Regions from separate parts of the Homo sapiens genome. Here regions 1, 2 and 4 are each reported to be linked to region 3. Evidence: microRNA targets listed by miRTarBase, many of them from high-throughput screens and not tested one by one. Region 3 holds a microRNA gene; each other region holds the end of a gene's coding sequence. Distances are from middle to middle.
Evidence for each region. Region 3 holds the annotated microRNA hsa-miR-3940-5p (GUGGGUUGGGGCGGGCUCUG, at 1,583-1,602, opposite strand). A microRNA usually pairs through its seed, bases 2 to 8, with sites in the 3' UTR of a target mRNA and lowers its output. Matches are read on the target gene's strand: a 7mer-m8 pairs with bases 2 to 8, a 7mer-A1 pairs with bases 2 to 7 and ends in A, and an 8mer does both.

Region 1 (3,499 bases), not on the chromosome of region 3:
GTCTTGTTTCTCCAGACCTCTGGTGTAATAAACTGCCATCTTCCTTTCTAGATCTATGTTAGCGTTCCTGGATCCAAGAAGGTCATCCTTGACCTGCCCCTGGTAATTGGCAGCAGATCAGGTCTAAGCAGCAGAACATCCAGCATGGCCAGCCGAACCAGCTCTGAGATGAGTTGGGTAGATCTGAACATCCCTGATACCCCAGAAGGTGAGCCAGACCTAATGTCTTTTCTTTGTTTCTGGTCTACCTGGGTTTGTAAAATTGTGATGGTCCAGCATTTCTTGGGCAGGATTCTTATGTGGCCATATTTTCTTTTCTAGCTCCTCCCTGCTATATGGATGTCATTCCTGAAGATCACCGATTGGAGAGCCCAACCACTCCTCTGCTAGATGACATGGATGGCTCTCAAGACAGCCCTATCTTTATGTATGCCCCTGAGTTCAAGTTCATGCCACCACCGACTTATACTGAGGTGAGGATTGTCATCTTTACTGTTAAATTTGTCCTAAGCTTTCTATAAGAAGTTGACTTAGACGGATTGCTAAACTGGTTTGTTCTTTTTGTTCTTACCTGAACTGAAATAGTCTGTTTCTTTCTTTAGGTGGATCCCTGCATCCTCAACAACAATGTGCAGTGAGCATGTGGAAGAAAAGAAGCAGCTTTACCTACTTGTTTCTTTTTGTCTCTCTTCCTGGACACTCACTTTTTCAGAGACTCAACAGTCTCTGCAATGGAGTGTGGGTCCACCTTAGCCTCTGACTTCCTAATGTAGGAGGTGGTCAGCAGGCAATCTCCTGGGCCTTAAAGGATGCGGACTCATCCTCAGCCAGCGCCCATGTTGTGATACAGGGGTGTTTGTTGGATGGGTTTAAAAATAACTAGAAAAACTCAGGCCCATCCATTTTCTCAGATCTCCTTGAAAATTGAGGCCTTTTCGATAGTTTCGGGTCAGGTAAAAATGGCCTCCTGGCGTAAGCTTTTCAAGGTTTTTTGGAGGCTTTTTGTAAATTGTGATAGGAACTTTGGACCTTGAACTTACGTATCATGTGGAGAAGAGCCAATTTAACAAACTAGGAAGATGAAAAGGGAAATTGTGGCCAAAACTTTGGGAAAAGGAGGTTCTTAAAATCAGTGTTTCCCCTTTGTGCACTTGTAGAAAAAAAAGAAAAACCTTCTAGAGCTGATTTGATGGACAATGGAGAGAGCTTTCCCTGTGATTATAAAAAAGGAAGCTAGCTGCTCTACGGTCATCTTTGCTTAGAGTATACTTTAACCTGGCTTTTAAAGCAGTAGTAACTGCCCCACCAAAGGTCTTAAAAGCCATTTTTGGAGCCTATTGCACTGTGTTCTCCTACTGCAAATATTTTCATATGGGAGGATGGTTTTCTCTTCATGTAAGTCCTTGGAATTGATTCTAAGGTGATGTTCTTAGCACTTTAATTCCTGTCAAATTTTTTGTTCTCCCCTTCTGCCATCTTAAATGTAAGCTGAAACTGGTCTACTGTGTCTCTAGGGTTAAGCCAAAAGACAAAAAAAATTTTACTACTTTTGAGATTGCCCCAATGTACAGAATTATATAATTCTAACGCTTAAATCATGTGAAAGGGTTGCTGCTGTCAGCCTTGCCCACTGTGACTTCAAACCCAAGGAGGAACTCTTGATCAAGATGCCCAACCCTGTGATCAGAACCTCCAAATACTGCCATGAGAAACTAGAGGGCAGGTCTTCATAAAAGCCCTTTGAACCCCCTTCCTGCCCTGTGTTAGGAGATAGGGATATTGGCCCCTCACTGCAGCTGCCAGCACTTGGTCAGTCACTCTCAGCCATAGCACTTTGTTCACTGTCCTGTGTCAGAGCACTGAGCTCCACCCTTTTCTGAGAGTTATTACAGCCAGAAAGTGTGGGCTGAAGATGGTTGGTTTCATGTTTTTGTATTATGTATCTTTTTGTATGGTAAAGACTATATTTTGTACTTAACCAGATATATTTTTACCCCAGATGGGGATATTCTTTGTAAAAAATGAAAATAAAGTTTTTTTAATGGAAAAAAAAATGTCTGTGAGATGGCTTTGGAAAAGTTTTTGGAAAGAAGGTGTGTCTAAAGGAGTTTTCCTCTACTTAACAATCCACACTAATGAAAACCTTGTGGAGAAAACACTCCCTATGGACCCTAAGGAATGTCGGCAGAGTGGGGGCTAGAAGGTGAAGAGGGAAACCGTTTGAGGCATGTTTCAGATTCACTGAACAACTATACTGGGATTTTCCGGTTGTCTAAACTAGTTTTCCAAATCCATAGGTAATCATTACTAAATTCCTTCAGTTTTGGAGTTCATGGGTTCTTGAAATACAGGGAGATGATGTTTATGAGGGCATTTGAAAGAAAAGAGTGGCGGTTCCTTTTTTTGAGACAGTCTCACTCACCCAGGCTGGAGTGTAGTATGATCTTAGCTCACTGCAGCCTTGATTTCCTGGGCTCAAGTGATCTTCCCATCTCCGCCTCCCACATAGCTGGGCTACAGGCATACACAACTACGTTCAGTTAATTGTGTGTGCGTGTGTGTGTGTGTATGTGTTTGTTTTTTCTACGCTCAGCTAATTTTTTGATTATTTGTAGAGTTCGGGTTTTGCCATGTTGTCCAGGTTGGCCTCAAACTTCTGGGCTCAAGTGATCTGCTGGCCCTGGCCTCCCAAAGAGTTGGGAATACAGGCGTGAGACACCACACTCAGCTGAAGATCCCCTTTTTACAATATGGTTTTATCATAGGGTTTCTTCCCAATGTAAACTTGATTTATATACTAACAAGGATAACTTCAGGACTTAAGAGGTTATAGAGTTATGAGTATTAAATTCTTTGGAGGCAGCTAACCATTTTTTATTTTCACAGTTCCTAACCAAGCACATAACTCAGTAAATGTTTGCTAACTATTCAACTTCACCCTCATCCCTTAGATGATTTGATGGTTCCTATTCCTTGTAGGGTAATAGTAGTAGAGTAATACCACAATCCCATGTTTAATTGGTGTGATTTTCTTTCTTTCTTTCTTTCTTTCTTTTTTTTGAGATAGAGTCTTGCTCTGTCTCCCAGGCTAGAGTGCAGTGGCCCAATCTTGGCTTAATACAATGTCCGCCTCCCAGGTTCAAGCGATTCTGCTACCTCAGACTCTTGAGTAGTTGGGATTACAGGCATGAGCCACCACACTCAGCTAATTTTTGTATTTTTAGTAGAGACGGGGTTTCACCATGTTGGCCAGGCTGGTCTCGAACTCCTGACTTCCCGTGATTCACCCGCCTCAGCCTCCTAAAGTGCTGGGATTACAGGTGTGAGCCATGGCGCCCAGCAGTGATTTTCATTCCTAAAGAACCGACAGGTGGAGAAACCCTGGGATGGCCAATTTAAATATTTGCACAGATCTGGTCCTGGTCCTTATTTGGGAATTGATTTTTCTGAGGACTTCCACAAACTAATTCCAAATAACAGGCTCCTGGAAATTCTACAT
Region 2 (3,000 bases), not on the chromosome of region 3:
GGTGATGCTCCCTACTTCAATTTAAGCTTGAGAGCCTGAACTATGTCCTCTGGAGTCTCTGAGGCCCAAAGGTCTATACCAAACACATTACGTACCAGAAAAAAACAAAAGTTGAGACTAGCCAACCAACTGCCTATCTGATAAAGAAGTGTCTACCTAGGGATAACTTACAGTCCCTGGATCTGTGAAAGCACAGCATGCACATTTCATAGAGAACTGACCTATAGTCATACATATATACATACATACACATATATATATATATTTTAGACAGAGTTTTGCTGTCACCCAGGCTGGAGTGCAGTGGCACGATCTCGGCTCACTGCAACCTCCACCCCTTGGGTTCAAGGAATTCTCGTGCCTCAGCCTCCCGAGTAGCTGGGATTACAGGCGCCTGCCACTATGCCCGGCTAATTTTTGTATTTTTAGTACAGACGGGGTTTTGCCATGTTGGCCAGGCTGGTATCAAACTCCTGACCTCAAGCAATCCACCCACCTCAGCCTCCCAAAGTGCTAGGATTACAGGCATGAGCCACTGCGCCAGGCCCCTTATAATCATTTTAATGTGAACTTTGCTAGCTCTAGGACCAATGAAAGTTTAAGTGAGCAAATCCCTATGCTAGAAACCAGGGGCTAAGGAAGAAATAAAAAAGTAGACATCTGGGGAAAGGCATTGCCTCTCAATGGTTCTTTTTTGTTTTTGAGATGGAGTTTCGCTCTTGTTGCCTAGGCTGGAGTGCAATGGTGCAATCTCAGCTCACCACAACCTCTGCCTCCCAGATTCAAGTGATTCTCCCTGCCTCAGCCTCCCGAGTAGCTGGGATTACAGGCATGCGCCACCAAGCCCAGCTAATTTTGTATTTTAGTAGAGATGGGATTTCCCCATGTTGGTCAGGCTGGTCTCGAACTCCTGACTTCAGGTGATCCACCAGCCTCAGCCTCCCGAAGTGCTGGGATTACAGGAGTGGGCCACTGCACCCAGCCTCAATGTTTCTTAATCTTGAGCATGTATCATAATCACATAGGCTTCTTAAAATACAGCTTGCTGGGACCTACACCCAGAAGTTTCTGGTTCAAAAGGTCTGGGATGGAGCCAGAGAACCCTCATTTATTTTTTATTTTTCTGAACCTACGGATTATACTAAAACTTTTATTTCTAGTAAGTCCCCAAGTGATACCAATGCTGCTGGTCCAGGACCACACACTTTAAGAACCACGGGCCTACATTAAGAAAACGGCAGGCAGAGATCCTCAGACACAAGGTCAACTCTCCACTAACACCTTGGTGGAAGAGCAGATGGACAGTCGGGGGAAGAAGAGAAGAAAGTGCTCATATAAAGTCCAATTAGCTAGGGGCAGAGTGGAGTTACTGAAAGGAAGACTTAGTCCTCACGGTCATTCAAAGAACCAGACTGACAATCTTTGCCATCTTCGGTGGCTTCCAAACTTATCCTGGATACGACCGTCCAACCAGCAGCTGGGAGAAGAGAATGGAGGATCATGCAAGAAATGTTTATGGGGCAAGCCTGGATTCCTATGCCCACATTTCACCGCCTACGACTTAGTCATATGTTCTCACAGAGATGCTGGGAGTAGGGAAATGTCCCTGGCTGGATTGCCACATCTTGACAACATATCTTCAAAGAGCAAGAATCTTTGGTAGACACCTAGCAGTCTCTGCCATCAAACCCCTTTCCCATTGTGGACTTAAACAAGTCTGAGCTTAGCTTTAAAGAAAATGTATAGCTAATGACACAGACATCTTAATTACTAAAATTAATGTCTGTAACTTAAAGTGACCAAAGGACTTATTACCTGAGTGACTGGAAAAAAAAACAACAATTTATGGGACTTCCCTGCAAGAGTCCATTCAGGATAGGGAGAAAAGACTGAGCTAGTGGGTTTACAGAAGCAGTCATGAGGAAAAAATGAAGTTTCTATTTTATAACTCTACTGGGCTCCTCTCTATCAACATGTTATGCTACTTTTTGGAGCTTAAGCAAAATTTTTAATGGAATAAGTCTAAAGATTTCATAGTTTTACATGTAGAGAGCTTAATATCCATTTATCTATCATTCTTAAAGCAAATGCTAAATCCCCTTTTCAAAGACGAAAACTTTGCTATTATTGAGGTTATCATCAAAGTTTTACTGCAACTCTAAAACATAGGAATGTCCCATACAACAGCAGCTAACACTTTGCTTTTTAAAGTGATTCTTCTTAGTGCAGGGACACTCATTTGTCTATGCTTGTTATACAGCGAAATTACTGCCTATGACATCTCATAATTGAAAAATTTGGAGTCAAGATTAAAGCTGTTTACATTTTTAGTGAAACTTCTCTTAAGACTGTCCAAAAGAAAATGAACTAATATATGATGCTATTATCAAAAGGAAAAAAAGAAAAAGAAACATCTTTCATGGTCTTTCATTCATCTCATCAATTAGGACACACAAGGCAGCATCTTTCTCTATAATCTGATCTCTCCTATGACCTGAATTTTCTCTTTGATGTTCATTCTGTCCAGTACAATTGTTGCTATCATCAGCATCCATTGGTTCAGTTTTTACTCTCATTCCTGCTTCTGAATGAGGCAAATCATCAGGCAAAGAAGCCAAGCAATTCTGAATCATTTCAATTACTCGTTCCAGGTGCTTTTGAAATCTCTCAGCTGTTTCAAGCCGTTGACGTTTCTGGACCTCCATCATGACTCTCAAGGTCTCTCTTGCTTGGTGGGGTCGGTATTCATTTATAAGATGATGCACGTGTACAAAAAGCAGCTTAAGATCTTCTAGTTTCTCTTCTCGTTTTATACTCCCAGGGCTCCTTATTAAAATATCTAAAAGGTCCAAGAAATTAATAAGGATAGACATATTAAGTTTTCTCAGTTCTTTCTTGTGATCAAACTGCATAGGATGAAGCCGTTCGATGCCCTGACTTTCCAAAGGGCGGATGATAAGATCATCACATTGGAACTGATTGCCAAACATCATGTAACTG
Region 3 (3,000 bases):
CACGACAGCGGCACACAGGAACAAGCAGCCGGCGCAGGGAGGCCTCTTCGTTTAACCTCTGGACCCAGCGAATGCTTCCCTGGCGGTGCGTGGGGACTCCCGGAGACCTCCGGCCACACGGCCCCCGCTGCAGGCATCAAGGGCACACCCCGCAGGGGAAGGGGTTTCCGGCGCTACCCACTAAGGCAGGATGGACGGTGGCCGGGGGTTGGAAGGAGAAAGGAGGAGGAGGAGGGTGGCAATTCCCACTTGCCTGCTGCTGTCCCTGCTGCGTGGGCGGCGGCTGGGGGCCGCCAGGACCTGGGGTCTGTCCGTAGTAAGCGGCCTGCTGTCTGTAATATTCCGCCCAGGCGGCACTGTAGTCTGGCTGGGAGCCTGGGGGAGCTCCTGGACCCCCTCCGGTGGCCACTTGCGCTGTGGGTGGACAAAGGCAGGTGAGAGGCTGTGGGTGAGGGCTGCCCCTGCCCCTGTCCCCGCATGGTGGCCACTCACCTTGCTTCTTGTAGTACTCCTCCCAAGCCTTCGTGTAGTCCTGCTGTGGGGGTGCTCCGGGCTGCTGGGGCTGCTGGCCTGTGCGGGCGCCGAGACAGGTCAGAAACCACTCCCCCGGCAGGGCTGGAGCCCCCCCGCCACCCTGCAGACTCACCGATCTTTTTGTAATACTCTTCCCAGGCCTTAGTGTAGTCCGACTGGCCGGTGGGTGGGGGCTGAGGGGGCTCACCCTGAGCCGGTGGGGCCGCAGGGGCCGGTGCGGGGCCGGGGACGGGGCCCGGGGGCTGCTGGTAGTAGTGTGAGTAGTAGGCGGCCCACGCGGCGTTGGGGTCCGCGGCCGCTGCAGCTGCTTTGCCTGCAGGAGATACCTCGGGTGAGACGGGGGGACAGAACAGGGCCTGCCCTCCGCCAGGTGGCCCATCACTTACTTGGGTCATGAGGAGCAGGCGGCTGCCACTGGGGGTAGGTATTGCCCCAGCCCTGGGGTGGGTACTGGTGAGGAGGGGGCCCCCCGGCACTGCAGGAGAGAAGAAAGGGATGCTTGAGCAGTGGTGCGGGGGTGGCCGCAGCCGGACCACCTGGGGTGGGGATGTTTTTCAGTGGGGAGGCGCCAGAGACCCAGACCACCAGGCTCAACGGGGCGCCTGGGAAAGGCCTAGACAAGAAGCAACTCGAAGGACGCGCAGCGTCAGCTTGAGGACATGAAAGAAGCCGCGAAACTTGCACGTGCACAGAGGGATGCTGAAAGGCACATGCTCTACCAGTAGACAGGAGAGGGCCTGTTGATGGTATCCACAAAAATGGGCTGGATGAGGCCCCCCGCCTGCACTTCTAGGGAAAGGGAAATGGGGTCTGCTATTCTTCTTGCCAGCTCAGTAAGCCCCCGGCCTCAAAACCCAGGAGGCAGAGGATACTCACTGTGGGGGAGCCCCGGGTGGCCCCTGGTTGAAGGGCCCAGGATTGAAGGGCCCCATTGGGCCAGCAGGGCCTGGGCCACCTGGGCCTGGTCCAACTGGGCAGAGAGGACCCTAGAAGGAAGGAGAGTAACCAAGGTAAGTGGGCTGGGATCCGGGCTGTGAGACCAAATCCCCAGAGCCCGCCCCAACCCACCTCGATCTTTTCCTCGATAAGCTGCTTGGCGTGGTCAATCTGCTGGGGTGAACCCCGGATGATGAACAACTTGAAGTTGGGGTCCCCGTTGGGTGGCAGCTGCCGGGAGATCTCTACGAAGGCTCCCGTCTGCTGGTTTATGGCTTTCACATTCTCGCCACCTGCAGAAACGCAGAAGGTGAAGGTGGCCTGCAGTGATGGCCCAGGGAAGAGGGGGCAAGGGATAGGGTGCAGGGGGCCACACTCACCTCGGCCGATGACCAGCCCACACTTGTGAGTGGGGATGGAGAAGGTCATCTCCCCGCCAGGGGGACCCCAATTGCCTTGGCCTCTTCCTCGGCCTCGGCCCCCCGGGGGCATGCCTGGACCCCCTGGAGGACCTGGGGGACCACTCTGCAAGACAAGAGGAGGAGGAGGATGATGAACCCTGGAAGCCGGTCTGGTCTTGCACTCCCCTGGAGGCCCTGCCAGCCCCTTCAGCACCCGGGGCCACCTACCCTGAGGCTCTGGAGGAGGTCGTTGATGATCCGGGCTGCGTGCTCGCACCTGTCTGGGGGCCCCATTATATGAGCAATCTTCTCGGGCCCTGTCCCGTCATCTGAGGCCAGCACCGAGAGAGCAGAGACACAAGTTTAAAAGAAGAGCCCACCCCAGAGCCCTGCAACGCCGCCTCCAGCGCAGACACCACGCCGGCCTGAGATCTCAGACGCGCTGCGCCGCTCCCAGCCTCCACTCGCTCAGGGATTGAGGGGGAGGCGGCCCACATTCCCAGAGAAGGAAACCCACGGCCAAGCCAGGAGGTGGCTCAAGCTTCTTCCAGCACACAGCACCCCCAGCACTGAGAGATTTTACAGAACAATAAATCTCTGAAAAGCCAGAGGGGCCCTTCTCCCCACGGCAGGCAGCTCAGAGACTGCCTGAGGACTGGCAAGAGCCCAGAGCTGAGGTGGAGTGCCCTGATCCAGCCTGCGGGGCACCCAGGGCTGTCCTGTCAGGATAGGCTCCATCGTAGGGGGAGGAAGAGGAGATCTGATAGGGATAGGAACACACGTTCCCCCTGGATGTGGAAAGCCCTCATGTGTCTGTCCCAGAGAAGAGAAGGGACTGGCCATGTTCTGACGGCTGGACTAAGAGCCGTGAGGTGCTATGGAGGCCACCTGGCTGACCACGGTGCCCAGCTCCCTCAGAGCCTGCCTCCCAAAGAGGGTGGGGGTGCACTGGCCAGGGGCAGGGTGGGCCAGGCCCTGACCTTGCTTGAACTGTATCCGCACGCCAGCATCATTCTGGATCTTCTTGATCATCTCTCCACTCCGGCCAATGACCACGCCAACAGAATGCCTGGGCACTGGCACCTGGGGAGGGAGGCAGCAGCGTCAGCTCGGCCCGCAGCTCTGCTGC
Region 4 (3,499 bases), 39 Mb from region 3:
CTGGGCCATGTAATTGAAGAGTTTAGAGTCTTAAGGCATGGCTGCATCTAGTTGTCAGATGATGTCATCATGAATGGTCTCTTTTTATTTTCTCCGAGTTGGCTTCATTACCTTTCAGGGTCTCCTCCTAAGGTAGCGGAGACTTGCAGCTCCAGGCTTACACCCCAGCAGCCTGTCCTCCCCAGTGGAGAAAGTTTGCCAATTTCCCCGGAGTTGCAGCAGTGGTCTTTGGGGGCTGGTTCTCATTGGCCACACCAGGTCACATGCTGACCAGTCACTGTGTCTGATTGGCCAGGCTGGGGTCGCACTTGGGGTTGGGGTCCACTCCATTCAAACCTTAATGGATTGTGAGATGGGATATGGTGGTCCCTCAAAGGAAAAGGAAGAGGTGCCAGGAGACAAGACAGAATTTCTCATTACCTTCTCCCACATTTTGTGTTACAGAAGGGGCAGGATGGGGCTGGGAAGTCCAACCCCACGCATTTGGGCTCAGCCTTGGACATGGAGGCCTGACAGCTGTTGTCCTTTGGGGATCCTTTGCTTCTCTGGGGCCTCAACAGAACTAAAGAAGAAAACCGACCCTTTCCCCAACTACATGTACCAGCGGAAGGAAGGAAGGCCAATGTAGGAACCCAAAATGCTTATTTCTTCTTCTCTTACTTCCCTCTCACAGAAAAGTCTTACGAATGGGGAAATTCCACCAACATCCAGACCAAAAAGAAAAAAGCCCAAATCGAAAAAAAAAAAAAAAAAAAAAAAAAACAAAAAAACCCAACCAAATGTTTTTGAAATATTCAGAGCCGAACAGATTCTGAGAGATAACCCAGTCCAATAACCTCTTTCCTTCTTATTACTCATCTGTTTTTGAGGGGAAGTAGAGTTTTGATTATTAAACTTTATTTACATAAGTGATTCCAAATACATTTTCTTGTAAAAAACAAGAAGACATGTTTTGCCTAGTCTGTTAGCAAATACGTTACAGGGCACCTGCTGTGTGCCAGGTCTTAGCCTCACAGTCATGAACCAGGCTGACCCACCAAGATCCTTGCCACTGTGGGGCTGACCTCTTGGTCAGGAGACGCAGCAAACAAGGGAATCAATAAATAAAGTCATCTCGCCAGGCGCAGTGGTCCACATCTGTAATCTCAGCACTTGGGGGAGTCTGAGGTGGGAGGATCACTTGAGCCCAAGAGTTCGAGACCAGCCTGGGCAACATAGCAAGATGCAATCTGTAATTTTTTTTTTTTTTTTTTTTTTTGAGACGGAGTCTCGCTCTGTCACCCAGGCTGGAGTGCAAGGGTGCTCTCTCGGCTCACTGCAAGCTCCGCCTCCCGGGTTCATGCCATTCTCCCGCCCAGTCTGTAATTAATACTAAAAAAATGAAGTCATCTTGCACACTGACAAGTGTCACGAAGAAAATAAAACAGGAGGATGTGTTGAGAAAATGACTAGGGGAGCTACTTCGGGTTTTTTACTTTTTCCAATTTTTAAAATTTTGATTTATTTAATTCAGGTAGTTTTGAATGGGTAATAAATTCACTTGGTTTGAAATGCAAAGAGTGCAAGATGGCATACAATGAAGTCTTTCTCTATCCCTCTCACACTTCAGCCACTCAATTTTCCGTGGTGGGGGAGGTGGCTTTTGAAACAGGGGAATCAGGAAAGGTCTCTGAGGAGGGGACAGTTGAGCAGAGACCTGACAGAGAAGAGTCAGCTCCGCAAATACCCCAAAGAGTGTTCTAAGGCAGAGGGAACAATCAGTATGAAGGCTTAGAAGCAGGATAAAATTTCCCCCCTTTTTTTTTTTTTTTTTGAGACAGAGTTTTCACTCTTGTTGCCCAGGCTGGAGTGCAATGGTGCAATCTCGGCTCACTGCAACCTCCGCCTCCTGGGTTCAAGTGATTCTCCTGCCTCAGCCTCCCAAGTAGCTGGGATTACAGGCACGTGCCACCACACCAGGCTAACTTTTTGTATTTACTACAGACAGGGTTTCACCATGTTAGTCAGGCTGGTCTCGAACTCCTGACCTTAGGTGATCCACCCAACTCGGCCTCCCAAAATGTTGGGATTACAGGCATGAGCCAGCCACCAGGTCCGGCCAAATTTGGCATTTTCAAGACAGACTTGAGACCTCCCAAGTGCGGTGGCTCACACTTGTAATCCCAGCACTTTGGGAGGCCGAGGCAGCTTGATTCCAGGAATTCGAGACCAGCATGGGCAACATAGCAAAACCTTGTCTCTACAAAAAAAAAAAAAGATCTCTGTGACCACCAAATTAACCCCACACTCTCTATCTCACTGGTAACCCTTGCAATGAGTTTAAAGTGGACTTTTTACATGTATTAATATATGGTATTCTGGGTGTTTCCTTGATTTTTTTCATTCCCTTCGTATCTCTGGCAACTTTTTATCCACTTAATGGATGTTTTCATTCTATGTCACCCACGTCATTTACACACTTCATGCCACCCGTTTTTTTAAGAGACAAGGTCTAAGTCTGTATCCCAAGCTGGAGTATAATGGCGCAATCATCGCTCACCACAGCCTCGAACTCCTGGGCTCAAGCAATCCTCCTACCTCATCTTCCCAAGTAGCTGGGACCACAGATGGATGATACCACACCCAGTTAATTTTTTTTTTTTTTTTAGAGATGGGGTCTCGGCCAGGCGCAGTGGCTCACACGTGTAATCCCACCACTTTGGGAGGCCCAGGTGGGCAGATCTTCTGAGGTCAGGAGTTCGAGACCAGCCTGACCAACATGGAGAAACCCCATCTCTACTAAAAAATGCAAAAATTAGCTGGGCTTGGTGGTGCATGCCTGTAATCCCAGCTACTTGGGAGGCTGAGGCAGGAGAATCGCTTGAACCCAGGAGGTGGAGGTTGCAGTGAGCCGAGATTGCGCCATTGAACTCTAGCCTGGGAAACAAGAATGAAACTCTGTCTCAAAAAAAAAAAAAAAAAAAAGAGAGAAATGGGGCCTCACTATGTTGTCCAGGCTGGTCTCAAACTCCCTGACCTCAAGTGATCCTCCTGCCTTGGCTTCTCAAAGCACCAAAGCACTGGGATTACAGGCATGACACACCTTGCCCAGTCCACACCTCCTTAAGTTGCTGCTCACTCCGTGCTTCAGAAAAGGATGTCCAAGGGTTTCACTATTCCCTGCCCTCATCTTTTTTTTGTTTTGTTTTGTTTAATTTTTTTTGAGGAGTCTTGCTCTGTCTCCCAGGCTGGAGTGTAGTGTCACGATCTTGGCTCACTGCAACCTCCGCCTCCGGGGTTCAAGTGATCCTCCCACCTCAGCCCCTCAGCCACCCAAGTAGCTGGGATTACAGGTGTGTGCCACCATGCCTGGTTAATTTTTTGTTTTTGGTAGAAACGGGGTTTCACCATGTTGGCCAGGCTGGTCTTGAACTCCTGACCTCAAGTGATCCACCCGCCTCGGCCTCCCAAAGTGCTGGGATTACAGGCGTGAGCCACTGTGCCCAGCCTCCCCTGTCCT

Region 1: miRTarBase lists TXNIP as a target of hsa-miR-3940-5p. Seed matches in the 3' UTR shown: 7mer-A1 at 1,642-1,648.
Region 2: miRTarBase lists MED7 as a target of hsa-miR-3940-5p. The part of its 3' UTR that is shown has no 7-base or 8-base seed match.
Region 4: miRTarBase lists PPM1N as a target of hsa-miR-3940-5p. Seed matches in the 3' UTR shown: 7mer-A1 at 630-636 and 7mer-A1 at 769-775.

Annotation. Positions count from the first base shown.
Region 1 is chr1:145,990,990-145,994,488 of GRCh38, reverse strand. TXNIP (thioredoxin interacting protein) reads left to right here. Exons shown (of 8, transcript NM_006472.6): 6 at 52-208; 7 at 322-473; 8 at 603-2,054. The coding sequence ends at 638. Among named protein-coding and RNA genes, the nearest start is that of TXNIP, 3.8 kb to the left of the region's middle. RefSeq lists an enhancer at 1,702-1,781.
Region 2 is chr5:157,136,313-157,139,312 of GRCh38, forward strand. It overlaps MED7 (mediator complex subunit 7), which reads right to left. Exons shown (of 2, transcript NM_004270.5): 2 at 1,112-3,000. The coding sequence ends at 2,418. Among named protein-coding and RNA genes, the nearest start is that of MED7, 5.1 kb to the right of the region's middle.
Region 3 is chr19:6,414,888-6,417,887 of GRCh38, forward strand. It overlaps MIR3940 (microRNA 3940), which reads right to left and starts at 1,624; the gene lies at 1,523-1,624. KHSRP (KH-type splicing regulatory protein) reads right to left here. Exons shown (of 19, transcript NM_001366299.1): 11 at 2,852-2,954; 12 at 2,100-2,200; 13 at 1,851-1,995; 14 at 1,603-1,763; 15 at 1,411-1,520; 16 at 921-1,009; 17 at 647-847; 18 at 493-570; 19 at 1-414. The coding sequence ends at 137.
Region 4 is chr19:45,501,573-45,505,071 of GRCh38, forward strand. It overlaps PPM1N (protein phosphatase, Mg2+/Mn2+ dependent 1N (putative)), which reads left to right. Exons shown (of 5, transcript NM_001080401.2): 5 at 445-941. The coding sequence ends at 513. All of the region lies in intron 1 of LOC107985314 (a long non-coding RNA gene), which reads right to left. Among named protein-coding and RNA genes, the nearest start is that of VASP, 4.2 kb to the right of the region's middle.